Linked DNA regions of Homo sapiens: region 2 is linked to region 1. The links come from fine-mapping of genetic effects on gene expression. Tissue or cell type: whole blood. Region 1 holds a variant in brackets; the other region holds the start of a gene. All regions are shown on one strand. Distances are between the middles of the regions.

Evidence for each region. PIP is the estimated chance that this variant, and not a neighbour inherited with it, causes the effect.
Region 2: ZNF641 starts here. The variant in region 1 is fine-mapped to the expression of ZNF641 in whole blood (INTERVAL, PIP above 0.99).

Annotation. Positions count from the first base shown.
Region 1 is chr12:48,268,721-48,276,826 of GRCh38, reverse strand. No RefSeq gene overlaps it. Among named protein-coding and RNA genes, the nearest start is that of H1-7, 56 kb to the left of the region's middle. The variant C/G (reference allele first, on the strand shown) is at 3,768.
Region 2 is chr12:48,346,718-48,354,822 of GRCh38, reverse strand. ZNF641 (zinc finger protein 641) reads left to right here and starts at 3,904. Exons shown (of 6, transcript NM_001172681.2): 1 at 3,904-4,037; 2 at 6,708-6,916; 3 at 7,480-7,571. The coding sequence starts at 6,733. RefSeq lists silencers at 3,394-3,473, 3,754-4,183 and enhancers at 3,149-3,885, 4,324-4,393.

The DNA.
Region 1 (8,106 bases):
AATAATGAAAGACATCAAACCACAGATCCAAGAAGCTCAGAGAATCATAGTGATATAAATACCAACACACACACACACACTACACACACACGATGTGTCCTATTTAAACATTTGAAAACCAAAGATAAAGAGAAAATCTAGAAGACAGTCAGACAAAAAAGACACATTACCTAAAGGAAAAAAATTAAATTTACAGCATAGTCATCACAAGAAACTAAGACATAGAGTGACATCTTTAAAATGTTAAAAGAAAAAAAAAGTAACATGGAATTCTATACCAAGTGAAAATACTTTTCAAAATGAAAGAGAAATTAAGCAGACCTATGCCACAAGAAATGTTAAAGAAAGTTCTTGGCTGGGTGTGGTGGCTCACGCCTGTAATCCCAGCATTTTGAGAGGCCAAGGTGGGTGGATCACTAGGTCAGGAGATTGAGACCATCCTGGCTAACACGGTGAAACCCTGTCTCTACTAAAAATACAAAAAAGATTAGCAGGGCATGGTGGTTGGTGTCTGTAGTCCCAGCTACTTGGGAGGCTGAGGCAGGAGAATGGCATGAACCCAGGATGCAGAGCTTGCAGTGAGCCAAGATCGCGCCACTGCACTCCAGCCTGGGTGACAGAGTGAGACTACATCTCAAAAAAAAAAAAAAGAAAAAAAAAAAAAGGAAAGTTCTTTAAGAGGAAGGAATGTAATACTAGACAGAAACTTGAATCTATGCAAAGATCTTTTGGAATTGTTAAAGTCAAAGTAAATATAAAATATTTTTTCTTGTTAATAACTTTAGAAGATAATTTACTGTCTAAAGCAAAAACAAAGGCAACCTACTCTGGGTTTGGAGCACAAGTAAAAGTAAAACATATAACAATTGCATAAAGAGTGAGAGAAATTAGGGAAGTTATTACGCTACACATAAGTGGCATAATACTATTTGAAGGTAGACTGTGATTAAATAAATGTGTTTATGAAAACTCCTAGGGCAGATTGCTGGCAAGATGGCCAAATAGGAACAGCTCCAGTCTGCAGCTCCCAGTGAGATCAACACAGAAGATGGGTGATTTCTGCATTTCCAACTGAGCCTCCACTGGTGATACCCAGGCAAACAGTGTCGGGAGTGGACCTCCAGCAAATTCCAGCAGACCTGCAGCGGAGAGGCCTGACTGTTAGAAGGAAAACTAACAAACAGAAAGGAGTAGCATGTCCACTCAAAGACTCCAACCGAAAGTCACCAACATCAAAGACCAAAGGTAGATAAATCCAAAAAGATGGGGAGAAACCAGCACTAAAAGGCTGAAAATTCCAAAAACCACAACACCTCTTCTCCTCCAAAGGATCATAACTCCTTGCCAGCAAGGGAACAAATCTGGATGGAGAATGAGTTTGAGGAATTCACAGAAGTAGGCTTCAGAAGGTGGGTAATAACAAACTCCTCCGAGCTAAAGGAGCATGTTCTAACCCAATTCAAGAAAGCTAAGAACCTTGAAAAAAGCTTAGATGAACTGCTAACTAGAATAATCAGTTTAGAGAAGAACATAAATGACCTGATGGAGCTGAAAAACACAGCACGAGAACTTCGTGAAGCATACACAAGTATCAATAGCGGAATCGATCAAATGGAAGAAAGGATATCAGGGATTGAAGATCAACTTAATGAAATAAAGCGAGAAGACAAGATTAGAGAAAAAAGAATAAAAAGGAATGAACAAAGCCTCCAAGAAATATGGGACTATGTGAAAAGACCAAATCTATGTTTGATTGAAGTACCTGAAAGTGACAGGGAAAATGGAACCAAGTTAGAAAACACTCTTCAGGATATTATCCAGGAGAACTTCCCCAACCGAGCAAGACAGGCCAACATTCAAATTCAGGAAATACAGAGAATACCACAAAGATACTCCTCGAGAAGAGCAACTCCAAGACACATAATCATCAGATTCACCAAGGTTGAAATGAAGGAAAAAACAGCCAGAGAGAAAGGTCAGTTTACCCACAAAGGGAAGCCCATCAGGCTAACAGTGGATCTCTTTGCAGAAACCCTACAAGCCAGAAGAGAGTGGGGGGAAATATTGAACATTCTTTTTTTTTTTTTTTTTTTTTTTGAGATGGTGTCTCGCTCTATCACCCAGGCTGGAGTGCGGTGGCACAATCTCTGCTCACTGCAAGCTCCGTCTCCTGGGTTCATGCCATTCTCCTGCCTCAGCCTCCCGAGTACATGGGACTACAGGCACCCACCACCATGTCTGGCTAATTTTTTTTGTATTTTTTTTAGTAGAGATGGGGTTTCACCACGTTAGCCAGGATGGTATCAATCTCCTGACCTCCTGATCTGCACACCTCGGCCTCCCAAAGTGCTGGGATTACAGGTGTGAGCCACTGTGCCCAACCAATATTCAACATTTTTAAGGAAAAGAATTTTCAACTCAGAATTTCATATCCAGCCAAACTAAGCTTCATAAGCAAAGGAGAAATAAGATACTTTACAGACAAGCAAATGCTGAGAGATTTTATCACCACCAGGCCTGCCTTTCAAGAGCTCCTGAAGGAAGCACTAAACATGGAAAGGAACAACTGGTACCAGCCACTGCAAAAACATGCCAAATTGTAAAGAACATCAACACTATGAAGAAACTGCATCAGATAAGGGGCAAAACAACCAGCTAGCATCATAGTGACAGGATCAAATTCACACATAACAATATTAACCTTAAATGTAAATGGGCAAAATGCCTCAATTAAAAGACACAGACTGGCAAATTGGATAAAGAGTCAAGACCCATCAGTGTGCTGTATTCAGGAGACTCATCTCATGTGCAAAGACACACATAGACTCAAAATAAAGGGATAAAGGGATGGAGGAATATTTACCAAGCAAATGGAAAGCAAAAAAAAAGAAAAAAGAAAAAAAGCAGGAGTCACAATCCTAATCTCTGATAAAACAGACTTTAAATCAACAAAGATCAAAAGAGACAAAGAACGGCATTACATAATGGTAAAGGGATCAATTCAACAAGAAGAGCTAACTATCCTAAATATATATGCACCCAATACAGGAGCACCCAGATTCATAAAGCAAATTCTTAGAGACCTACAAAGAGACTTAGACTCCCACACAATAGTAGTGGGAGATTTTAATACCCTACTGTCAATATTAGACATATCAATGAGACAGAAAATTAACAAGGATATTCAGGACTTCAACTCAGCTCTGGACCAAGCAGACCTAAAGGACATCTACAAAACTCTCCACTGCAAATCAAGAGAATGTACACTCTTCTCAGCACCTCATCACACTTATTCTAAAATTGACCACACAATTGGAAGTAAAACACTCCTCAGCAAATGCAAAAGAACGGAAATCATAACAAACAGCCTCTCAGACCACAGTGCAATCAAATTAGAACTCAGGATTAAGAAACCCACTCAAAACCACAAAACTACATGGAAACTGAACAACTTGCTCCTGAATGACTACTGGGTAAATAACGAAATGAAGGCAGATATAAAGATGTTTATTGAAACCAATGAGAACAAAGACACAACATGCCAGAATCTCTGGGACATATTTAAAGCAGTGTGTAGAGGGAAATTTATAACACTAAATGCCAGAAAGATCTAAAATTGACAGTCTAACATCACAATTAAAAGAACTAGAGAAGCAAGAGCAAACAAATTCAAAAGCTAGCAGAAGACAAGAAATAACTAAGATCAGAGCAGAACTGAAGGAAATAGAGACACAAAAAACCCTTCAAAAAATCAATGCATCCAGGAG[C/G]TGGTGTTTTGAAAAGATCCACAAAATAGATAGACTGCTAGCCAGACTAATAAAGAAGAAAAGAGAGAAGAATCAAACAGACGCAATAAAAAATGATATGGGGGATATCACCACCGATCCCACAGAAATACAAACTACCATCAGAGAATACTGTAAACACATCTATGCAAATAAACTAGAAAATCTAGGAGAAATGGATAAATTCCTGGACACATACACCCTCCCAAGTCTAAACCAGGAAGAAGTCGAATCCCTGAATAGACCAATAAAAAGTTCTGAAATTGAGGCACTAATTAATAGCCTACCAACCAAAAAAAGTCCAGAACCAGATGGATTCATAGCCGAATTCTACCAGAGGTACAAAGAGGAGCTGGTACCATTCCTTCTGAAACTATTCCAAACAATAGAAAAAGAGGGAATCCTCCCTAACTCATTTTATGAGGCCACCATCATTCTGATACTAAAACCTGGCAGAGACACAACAAAAAAAGAAAATTTCAGGCCAATATCCCTGATGAACATCAATGCAAAAATCCTCAATAAAATACTGGCAAACCAAATCCAGCAGCACATCATAAAGCTTATCCACCACGGTCAAGTCACCTTCATTCCTGGGATGCAAGGCTGGTTCAACATATGCAAATCAATAACCATAATCCATCACATAAACAGAACATGTATACCCATGTAACAAAACTGCACGTTCTGCTCATGTACCCTAGAACTTAAAGTATAATAATAATAAAAAAAATTCTAGGGCAGCCACTTAAAAACTGTAAAGATGTATAAATGATAAGCCAATAGTGAAGATAAAATGAAATCATTTAAAAAAGTTTAATACGGCTGGTCGTGGTGGCTCACGCCTATAATCCCAGCACTTTGGGAGGCCAAGGCAGGCGGATCAGGAGGTCAGGAGATTAAGACCATCCTGGCTAACATGGTGAAACCCTGTCTCTATTAAAAATACAAAAAATTAGCCGGGCGTGGTGGCAGGCGCCAGTAGTCCCAGCTACTCGGGAGGCTGAGGCAGGAGACAGGAGAATGGCCTGAACCCGGGAGGCGGAGCTTGCAGTGAGCCGAGATCGCGCCACTGCACTCCAGCCTGAGCAACAGAGCGAGACTTTGACTCAAAAAAAAAAAAAAAGTTAAATACAAAAGTAGGCAGAAAAATTCCACACCCATTTATTACCAAACCTCTTGGAAACTATGTATAGAAGGAAACCTTTCTGAACTGAAAAAGAATACCTTAAAAAATCTGCAGTAGTAGATATTCTAAGAGTACCTTAAAATAGTGTATTTAATAATGATGGACCAAATCTTTTTATCCTAAGACTGAGAAAAGGCAAAAATATCTGTTATCACCACTCTTATTCAACATTATACAGAAGGTCTAGCCTGTAAAATAATGCCAAAAGAAAAAAAGGAATAAAAAGAAAAGAAAGAAATGAGTGACAAAGAGAGAAGGTGGGCAGAGGGAGGAAGAAAAGGGATACAGATTAGAGAGAAATAAATGAGGCCGCGCGCAGTGGCTCACGCCTATAATCCCAGCACTTTGGGAGGCCGAGGCAGGTGGATCACAAGGTCAGGAGTTTGAGACCAGCCTGGCCAACATAGAGAAACCCCTCTCTACTAAAAATACAAAAAATTAGCCAGGTGTAGTGGCGGGCACCTGTAATCCCAGGTACTCGGGAGGCTGAGGCAGGAGAACCGCTTGAGCCTGGGAGGCGGAGATTGAAGTGAGCCGAGATAGCGCCACTGCGCTCCAGACCAGGCGACAGTGCGAGACTCCGTTTCAGAAAAAAAAAAAAAAAAAAAAAGAGAGAGAGAGAAAGACATAATGAAAGCTGTCTCTATTCACAGATGACATGGTTGTTGACAGAGAATCTGCAAAATAAGTCAGTTCAGCAACGTCAATGTCCAAAATTGTGTCTAACAAGACATCTACAATACCTTTATGATAAAAACTACAAAGAAAAAAAGAAATCAAAGGAGACATAAATAAGTGAAAAGATATATTGTGTTCATGAATTGGAAAACTAAATATTGTTAAAATATCCTTTCTCCCTCACTGATATATAGATTCAAAACAATCTCCATAAAGATACTAGACAAATTTTCGTAGAAATCAGAAAACGAATTCTAAAATGTATTTGGCAATGCAAATGAACTAAAGTATCCAAAACAATTTTGAAAAAAAGAACACAGCAGGTTATTTTGCAAGTATAAAAAACGGATTCTTCAGTTTATACAGAAAGGCAAAAGACCCAAAATAGCCAACACAATATTGAAGGAGAACAAAATTGGAGAACTGACACTCCCCAGCTTCAAAGCTCAATATAGGGGGAGAGCATTAGGGAAAAGAGCTAAAGCATGTGGGGCTTAATACCTACCTGATGGGTTGATAGGTGCAGCAGACCACCATGGCACATGTTTATTTACCTATGTAACAAACCTGCACATCCTGCACATGTACCCTGGAACTTAAAAAAAAAAAGACTTAATATAAAACTATAATAATTAGAAGTGTGGTATTGGCAAAAAAAAGAAAGAAAGAAATAGGCTAATGGAATGGAATAGTGAGCCCAGACATAAACCCATACAAATATAGTCAATTGATCTTTGACAAAGGAGCAAAGGCAATTAAACAAAGAAAGGATATTCTTTTCAACAAATAGTGCTGAAAAAAATTAGACATCCACATGCAAAGAAATGAATCTACACATAGATTTTACACCTTTCACAACAATTAACTCAAATACATTATAGACCTAAATATAAAATTAAAAACTATAAAAATACTAGAAATAATATAGAAGAAAATCTAGGTGACCTTAGCTTTGACAATGACTTTTTAGATAACACCACCAACAGCATGATGCATAAAAGAAAAAGCTAAGTTGTATTTCACTAAAATTAAAAACTTGTGCTTTTGTGAAAGCCAATGCTCAGAGAATAAAACCAGCCATAGACTGCAAGAAAATATTTGCAAAACATGTATCTGTTATGGGACTGGTGTCCAAAATATACAAAAATGTTTATAACTCAACAATAAGAAAACAACAACCTAATCAAACAGTGGACAAAAATCTGAGCAGACTCCTCACCAAAGAAGACATGCAAATGGAAAATGTGTGTATGAAAAGATGTTCAATCATCTATCATTAGGGAATTGCAAATTAAAACATCAGTGTGATACAACTGCATACCTATTAGGATGGCTAAAATCCCAAATATTGGCAACACAAATGCTAGCAAGGATGTGGAGCAATGAGAAGTCTCATTTATGGCTGATGGGAATGCAAAATTGTACAACCATTTTGGAATCCAGTTTGGCAATTTCTTACAAAACTAAACATGCTCTTACCATATGATCCAGCAGTCACAGTCCTTGGTATCTACTGAATGAGATGAAAACTGCACACAAATGTTTATAGCAGCTTTTTTTCACAACTATCCAAACTTGGAAGCAACCAAGATGTCATTCAGTAGGTCAATGGATGAACAGACTGTGGTACATCTTTACAGTGGAATATTATTCAACAATAAAAAGAAATTAGCTATGAAGCCACAAAAAATATATGGATGATCCTTAAATATATATTGCTATGCGAAAGAAGCCTATCTAAAAAGACTACGTCTTGTATGATTCCAACTATATAATGTTCAGGAAAAGACAAAACATGGAAATGGTTAAAAAAAATCAGTGGTTGCTAGCTATTTAGCAGGAAGAAAAGAGGGATGAATAGGTGGAGGATGAATAGGTATTATTCTGTATGATACTATAATAGTATATCCATGCCATTATATATTTGTCAAAACACAGAAAATACAACACAAAGAGTGAACGCTAATGGTAAACAATGGACTTTAGCAAATAATAAATTTATTGGTACTGATTCATCAATTATTATATCTCAATAAAGAAAAGGATTTGGGGAAAGGTTTCCATTACTAAACCACCTTTCCATTCTCCCTCCCACATAACTATAAAACCCTGGCAATGCTATATAAAATATTTATTAAATCCTATCAAATGCTTACTGAGCTTTCAAGAAAATAAGAAAAGTCCTCAGTGGGCAAAAAGAGTAAAAGCTGAAAGTCAGAATGACAGTTAGGTGCTAACGCCATTTTGTCAGGAAATGTTTGCAGATTTTAACAAATAAGAGGTTACAAATGATTATGCTAGAAGAGGAAGCAAAGGCATAGACCTACATAATGTAGGGAGTTGAAAATGAGATAATCACTGATGCTTGTACCCTCAAAGGCTTATACACCCAATTAAAGAATGGCAAAAATTTGCTGGGCATTGTGGTTCATGCCTATAAATCCAGAACTTTGG
Region 2 (8,105 bases), 78 kb before region 1:
CTTCTGATTCTATATGGGATGCCCTTCCTACATTTCACCTTCAAAGCTGATCTTGAAACTCCTCCATCAGAAAGTCTGAAAAAGATGGAATCATCTGCCTGCTACTCAATGCATAGTTAATTAATCCCTGCTGTAACATTGCATAGGAGTTTGTACTTGTCCATTGTAAAAGGTAAAGTACCACTCTGGTTAAAGGTGCACCCAGTGAGAAGTCAGACCAGGGCTCAATTCCTGATTGTGCCTCTTGGCTCACTTAATGTCCCTGAACCCATGCAGATCTACACCTTGCAGGGTTTGTTAACTGATAACTAAAGAGATGGCACACCAAAGCATAATATAAAGACATTTTGAATTTATTCCTTGTGATGTTTAAGACAAGGTTCTGTACAAGTACGGACGACCAAAGCAAAAATGGACAAACGGGGTCACATCAAGTTAAAAAGCTTCTGCACAGCAAAAGAAGCAATCAACAAATTGAAGAGACAACACACAGAATGGGAGAAAATATTTGCAAACTACTTATCTGATAAGAGATTAATAACCAGAATATATAAGGATCTCAAGCAACTCTACAGGAAAAAATCTAATACTCTGGTTAAAAAATAGGCAAAAGATTTGAATAGACATTTCTCAAAAGAATACATACAAATGGCAAACAGACATATGAGAAGGTGCTCAATATTACTGATCATCAGAGAAATGCAAATCAAAACTCCAATGAGATATCATCTCACTCCTGTTAAAATGGCTTATATTCAAAAAGCAGGCAATAACAAATGCTGGTAAGGATGTAGAGAAAAGGGAACCCTCATACACTGCTAGTGGGAATGTAAATTAGTATAACTACTAGGGAGAACAGTTTGGAGGTTCCTCAAAAAAACTAAAAATTGAGCTCCTATATGATCCAGCAATCCCACTGCTGGGTATATACCTAAAAGAAAGGAAATCAGTTTATCAAAGAGATATCTGCATTCCCATGTTTGTTGCAGCTCTGTTCACCATAGCCAAGATTTGGAAGCAATCTAAGTGTCCATTAACAGATGAATGAATAAAGAACAAATGGTACTTACACACAATGGAGCACTATTCAGCCATAAAAAAAGAATGAGATTTAGTCATTTGCAACAACATGGATGGAACTGGAAGTCATTATGTTAAGCGAAATAAGCCAGACACAGAAAGACAAACATCACATGTTCTCACTTATTTGGAGGATCTAAAAATCAAAACAATTCAACCCATGGAGATAGAGAGTAGAAGGATGGTTACCAGAGGCTGGGAAGGGTAATGGGGGAATGGGGACAGTGAGGATGGTTAATGGGTACAAAAAATAGTTTGAATGCATGAATAAGACCTAGTATTTAATAGAACAACCTAGTATTTAATAGACCTAGTATTTAATAGTTATTATAGTCAATAATAACTGTACATTTTAAAGTAACTAAAAGGGTATAATTGGATTGTTTGTAACACAAAGGATAAATGCTTGAGGGGATGGATACCTGATTCCCATGATGTGATTATCATGCATTGCATACCTGCATCAAAATATCTCATGTACCCCATAAAGATATTCACCTATTATGTAACTACACAAATTTAAAATTATAAAAGTTATTTTTAAAAAGAAAAGGTTCTGGTATAAAGAAGATGATACCATTCAGCCTCTTTTTTTTTTTTTTTTTTTGAGACGAAGTCTCATTCTGTTGCCCAAGCTGGAGTATTAGTGGCACGATCTCTGCTCACTGCAACTTCCACCTCCTGGTTTCAAGCGATTCTCCTGCCTCAGCCTCCCAAGTAGCTGGGACTACAGGCACGCACCACCATGCCCAGCTAGAGACAGGGTTTCACTATGTTGGCCAGGCTGGTTTTGAACTCCTGACCTTGTGATCCGCCCGCCTCTACCTCCCAAAGTGCTGGGATTACAGGCATGAGACACTGCACCTGGCTTTTTTTATTTTTTGGAAACAATCTCACACTGATTTGTTTCCCAAAACAGTCGAGGAGAGTTTGGGCTATTATAATATCTATCAGTTCTTTCCAAACATTCTTTTCAGGTAAAGTCAGGTTTACGTACTTGGTTATGTTCAATTTAACTCTGTGTGACGAGGCAATGCTGTGTCCAGCAGCGCCCATTTCCTTTTCCATGAGGCACACATTCTTTACTTCCCAGCCACCCTTCTGGGTAGGGCCATGTGACCATGCGCATGAGTTCTGGCTAAGGGAATGGGGTGAAAATGATACACACCACTTCCAGGACTGGCCCCTAATATCTCTGACAAGTTAACCACGGCCAGCCTCCCTTATCTGAGGGCCACAGATTTGACTACATTACCAAGGCCTCGGCATGGGAGAACCACCAAATGCAAGAAGCCTGGTCCTTCAATGAATTCAAGAAGTACAGACCCCACCCTCTGGCCCCAACCAACTTGTTACCACACTGTGACTTGTATGAACATAAGCCTTTATGGAGTTAAGCCCCGAGATACTGGTTTTGCTAGCCTACTCCAATTAACGCACCTTATATTTACCACCAGTGGTAGCATAAGTGAAAAGAACCCCTGGACTTAGTTCCAGGACCCGGGATAAAAATTCTGGCTCTACTACTACCCCGACATATCCCATGATCTGCTCCTAGAATATGCTCTATACTCTTCCCAACTGCGTGTCTACTGCATTTTCCTCTTTCATTAGACAGCCCTCCTGACTCTTCTCTGCCTCACGATTTCTGTCAGAGTGGGGGGCCTTCTCTGACCTCCGTCCCATACGTGGTCACTTCTCTTTGCTTCAAGTGCAGCGTACGTTCCTCTGTTTTAGAATCTACGTTTTTATTGCAAATATTTGTTGACATGTGCTTCCCCAGACTGTGAATCCTTTAACTCCCAGCATTTAGTTACAGTGTCTGGCACACGTAGAAAATAAATATGCATTAAACGAATGATTGTCACATATGACCTTAAGTGAGTCAATTATTTTTTAAGTCTACTAAATAAAATTTTTGAAAATTGTTGTAATGATGAAATAAGGAATGTGAATGTGACTTGTAGGTTATAAACAGATTCTAACAGCAATGGGTTTACTCACTGTTTGTAGGCCCTTCTCATCTTTTCTAGTCAAATCCATCTTAATGCTGCAAGGTAGCACTATCCAATAGAAATATAATGCAAGCCATATTTATAGCCACATTTAAAAAGTTAAAACCAGGTGAAATTAATTTTAATATATTTAACCCAATATACCCAAAATATCACTTTTTAAATTAAATCTTCTAAATCTTGGAACACATCTCTATTCAGACCAGCCACATTTCGAGAGCTCAGGTGTCACCTGCGGCTACGGCTCCCGCAAATGGGACAGCAGCCGCAAGGCCAACTTCAGATAGCAACCTGACTTCCCCTCAGGCAGAATAAGTGACTCCTCCTCAGTGCTCTCTCAAGCCCTTTATCCTATCGTGAAAACTAGAGGGTACGCTCCTTGAGGAATTCCAGACTGTTGTCTGGAGAAATCGCTCTCGGCCTCGGTCTGGCCTGTAACGGGCGGTTACGCAATTCCAGGTAATTGACGAACCCTGAGGACAGAACTCCGTGGGAGGCCCAGTAGCCAGAGCGGAAAATGGTCAGTCAGGCAAGAGTGCGGGCAAGTGGCCACAGCAGGCTGCGATTCCGGCGCCCGCCGCCCTCCAAGCGTCTCGGGCCGCACCCTCCCCACAGCGGCGGGCGCGGAGGTCCCGGGTTCGCGTTTGGGGGCGCCTGAGCCGCAGCCCCGCCCCCTCCCGTCCCTCCCTCCCTCCCTCCCTCCCACTCCTCTCCCTCCCACTCCTCTCCCTCCCACTCCCCGCACCTCCGCCGCCGCAGAGCCCCGGAAGCGGGCGGGGATTTCCTGTGCCCGCCCCGCCCCGCCCGCGCCTGCCGGGCCGCCGTCTCCGCCTGTCGCTGGCTCCGCCGGCCGCCGGCTCCCAGACGCAAGCGGAGGGCGGAGGGGAGGGGCAGGCGGCGCCCGGGAGGGAGGCACCGGGCCGCGGGCCAAGCCTACCGGGGGTGAGTGGAGCCGGGCCGGAGGGAGCTGCGGCTGGAGGGAGGGACGCCTGGCTTCCCGGGGCGGCTGGTGGGGGCTCGGTCACCCATAGGGGCTGGGAGGAGGATCGGCGCGTCTTCCGGGTTGCTGCCTTTCCCGGGGGTCTGCCCCGCTGACATTCTGTGCCCGCCTCTCGCCCTGTCTCCCCGTGCCCATCGCAACTGTCAGGCCCTGCGGGCTCCCGCCGCTGTCACTCGCGCACAGGTTACCCCGTGGCTCCCTTTCTCTTCACTTGCTCATGCCCCAGCTCATGGGAAACCTGTTTTCTGACCTCACTTCCCCTGCTCCAGTTCTGCCTTGCTCGGATTCTCTGAAATCTGACCCTTTCCAGGGGCACTGTGACAAGAAGAAGGGAAGAAGCAACCTTACCCCTGAGCAGGCTCCCGTCCCGCCCATGCCCTACCCGTGGCAGGGGCCAGGGTTCTCTGATGGACGGAGCCAACTCGTCCGTGTGCCCTTGGGCTACTCATTTTTATAACATGGCCCCTTTTCTGTTCATCAGCACTGGCTGCAGAAACTTCCTTTTGCAGGTCCCTTGCTACCCATATGTGTGAAGAAAAGGGGGAAATGAAAGCCCTAGAACCCACACTGCAGTGGGCATGGGATCATCCTGGAACCAGGAGAAACGAGGTTAGGGCTACCACCTTAACCGCCCAGGTGCTGGCTCTGCGTGAATATCTTAGGAAATGCAAGCTGAGGACAGGTACCCATCCCATCCTTTGCTGAGATTTTTGCTAGCACTTCCACGGATTTCTGTCAGTGGTATAGAAAAACTTACAGCTGGCCCAATGGGCTCTGCACAAAGAGGCTTCCCATTAAGAGACTCTGCTACCTGGGGGAGATGGAGAAAGGGTTTGAGACAAGTGTCCAGATATGTAGCTAGAGGTAAAGCCTTCAGGGAGGATTTGCACAGGAGCTAGAGAACCAGAAAGATGGGACGAAGAGGGAGAATTAGTGCCCTGTGTGTTAAAAGTGGATACAGAGCTGGAATTCAGAGAAGAGAGCTAAAATGGAAGTTTCCCTTTATTGCTTTAGCAAGAATTTTCCTTTCTCATGAAAAGTCTCTGAAAAGGAAACCTCCTAGGCTGGGAATCAGTCCAGGGTGCTCCCATGAGGCCCTGAGCCATCTTTGGACTTCTGAGATAAAAAGGGAATTTGTTTTTCCTGTGCATTGGGCTTAGGGTTCCCACCTACCTCTTTTGTCAAAGACAAATAGGCAAGAAAATAGACGACTTGACATCTGTGATTACCTACCCTGGCCTTCAAGGTTCTTGCAAGTGTTATTGAAAGGATGTAAGTAAGCCAGGATAGTTACCAAGTTTCTGACTGCTCTTGGAAGCCTTTCACTGACTCTGACTGTTTGGATATTGAATAAGAATACCCAAAATATGTTGCCAAACAGAAAGAGATTCTGAGTCTCAGATTATTTCTCTGCCATAAAGCCCTATCACAACAGAAGTGTGACCCATCCTGCTCTTAAGTTGTCTAAAGAAAAAGAAGAGCCCACTATCTGGTATTGTACACTGCAGGATTATTAAGAATTAAAAAAAAATAACCTAAATCTCTTCTCTTGCAATCAAGACCCATTTTTTTCTGTTTGACCTATATAGAGATAGAAGGGACCTCTGTTTTTATTCATTAGTAGCATCATTCATCAGCCTTCTTCTCCAGACAGAGAAAACTACATCCGACATTTTTAACTTTCCCAGTGGCTGTATTTCCAATCCCTTTCTTGACTTTGATGTTTTCTGATGAACACACACTGGCTTCACCATACGCTTCTTTCAAACTGAATATATTTTTCTAATGAGATCTGACTGGTGCCTGACAAATAAACAGGTTTGTTCTTCTGGGTCATGTTAGCAGCAGTTCTTCCCCCCTTTTCCAGCTCTGGTTCAAACTCTTTCTGTTCCTTTTTACTTTTCCTGATTAAACTTCAGCTCCTCACAGACCAACAATTTCTCTTACCTCTTAGGATTACTTTGGAGTCTTAACACCTGCTTTCCAAGTTATCAGTTTTTCTACCATATTTACTACCAGTTTTCATTGGATGGTAGACCAAGTGCCTTTTTATTGAGGCTTGTCCCAAGTGAGGTACCTTTTGGCCCAGCCTCATGATACAAATACGCCCCTTGGTTGGGACTTTTACCTATAGTAATCATTTCATTCTAAACTGATGAGACTGTGATTTGTGGCAGAAAATCTTCTGTGTGATTACATCCATCTTGTTGAGTGCAGGTCTATATGTATTTCTTCCTGTATGTTTCCAAATTGCTTACTTTCCTGTACTTCATGTGCTTGAAATTAAATGGATAGCCTTTGAATTTCCAGGACAGTTCTTTTTTTTTAAATGAACTTCTTCTAACCTTCAGGTATATTCTGTTTCTATAATGAGGTCCACAAAATACCAGTTAGTGGCTTTGCTACGTAGCACCTGCCAATTTCTTAGTTCCTCCAAGAAGCTTGGTGCAGGCTCCGTTGATCGGAACACATCAAGCTTTTAAAGTTCATCTTCCAGCAAGCTCCTCCTATCTAGTTTTGTCTATTATCCCTGGGCCTGTTCTTCATAACTCCCTTAGAAATATCACTCCTTTCCCATTTTCATGGGCATTGCTGATATGAATTTGTTCCAGGTCACAATTTGGGTCTGCAGCAGAAATGCTTTCAGAACAGACAGCAGCGCTGGGGACAGGATGGGAATCAATGAATGTACAGCTGGATGGAGCAGAGCCCCAGGTGGAAAGGGGAAGCCAGGAAGAGCGGCCATGGAGAACAGTACCAGGACCTCTGGAGCACCTGTGCTGTGACCTTGAAGAGGAGCCACAGTCCCTTCAGGAGAAGGGTGAGAACTCACAGAGTGTGTGGGAAGCACAGTGCATAGTCTCCTAATATTTATTCCAAAAGTAGGGTTAAAAATCTCCAAATTGCCATGGACTAAATAGCATAACCTGTACCAGGACCAGCCCATTCTTTCTCAGCCCTGGTCACAGGTACAGAATAGGCTCCTGAATTCAGCAAACCATGCAACTGGGCTTCTCTTGTTTCTTCATAATTACTCCCTCCACATGCAAATGCATAATTAGTGATACTGAATGAGGGAGATGAAGGAAGTGACAGCAACCTGATTACTGTTGGATAACCCACTCAGTAAGATGTAATTTACTAGATGAAAATTACATTCAAGTACTGTAAATTCAAACTATAGCTAGTCTAACTAAAAGCCATCTGATACCCTTTCAGAACATTTTGAGTGATGGCCTTCTCATCTACATTTATGCATTTGAGTTTTACCAATGGGCATAGATACAGAAGTTGTGACCCTTAAGCCTCTCTAAAATGGGGCCCAGGCCCCATTGAGAAAGGGTAGATCGTTATTCTCTAATGTTTCTTCTCTCTCCTTATCAGCTCAGTCTGCTCCCTGGGTTCCTGCAATTCCCCAGGAGGGGAACACTGGAGACTGGGAGATGGCAGCTGCACTTCTTGCGGCTGGATCACAGGTGAGCTCTGCTTCCCTTGGCGTCTCCTGTGGTCCCATCACTGCTGCCTTTGTATTGCTTTCGCATCAGCCCATTGATGAGTTGGCTCACATGATCATCAATGGTATGTTCATCTTATAACTGAATAGATTCTATCCCTTTCCAAGGGGTCATAAGACCCTTGGAAAATTAAATGGACCTACAAGAAAGGGAATTCCTTGAGGTTAGGGTTTTTTTGAGTTTTGTTTTGTTTTTTGTTTTTGAGACAGAATCTCACTGTGTTGCCCTGGTTGGAGTGCAGTGGTATGATCTTGGCTCCCTGCAACCTCCACCTTCTGGGTTCAAGCGATTCTTGTGCTTCAGCCTCCCAAGTAGCTGGGACTACTGGCACACGCCACCACACCTAGCTAATTTTTGTGTTTTTAGTAGAGACAAGGTTTTGCCACGTTGGCCAGGCTGGTCTTGAACTGCTGACGTCAGGTGATCTGCCCACCTCAGCCTCCCAAAGTGCTGGGGTCACAGGTATGAGCCACCGTGCCTGGCCAAGGTTAGGGT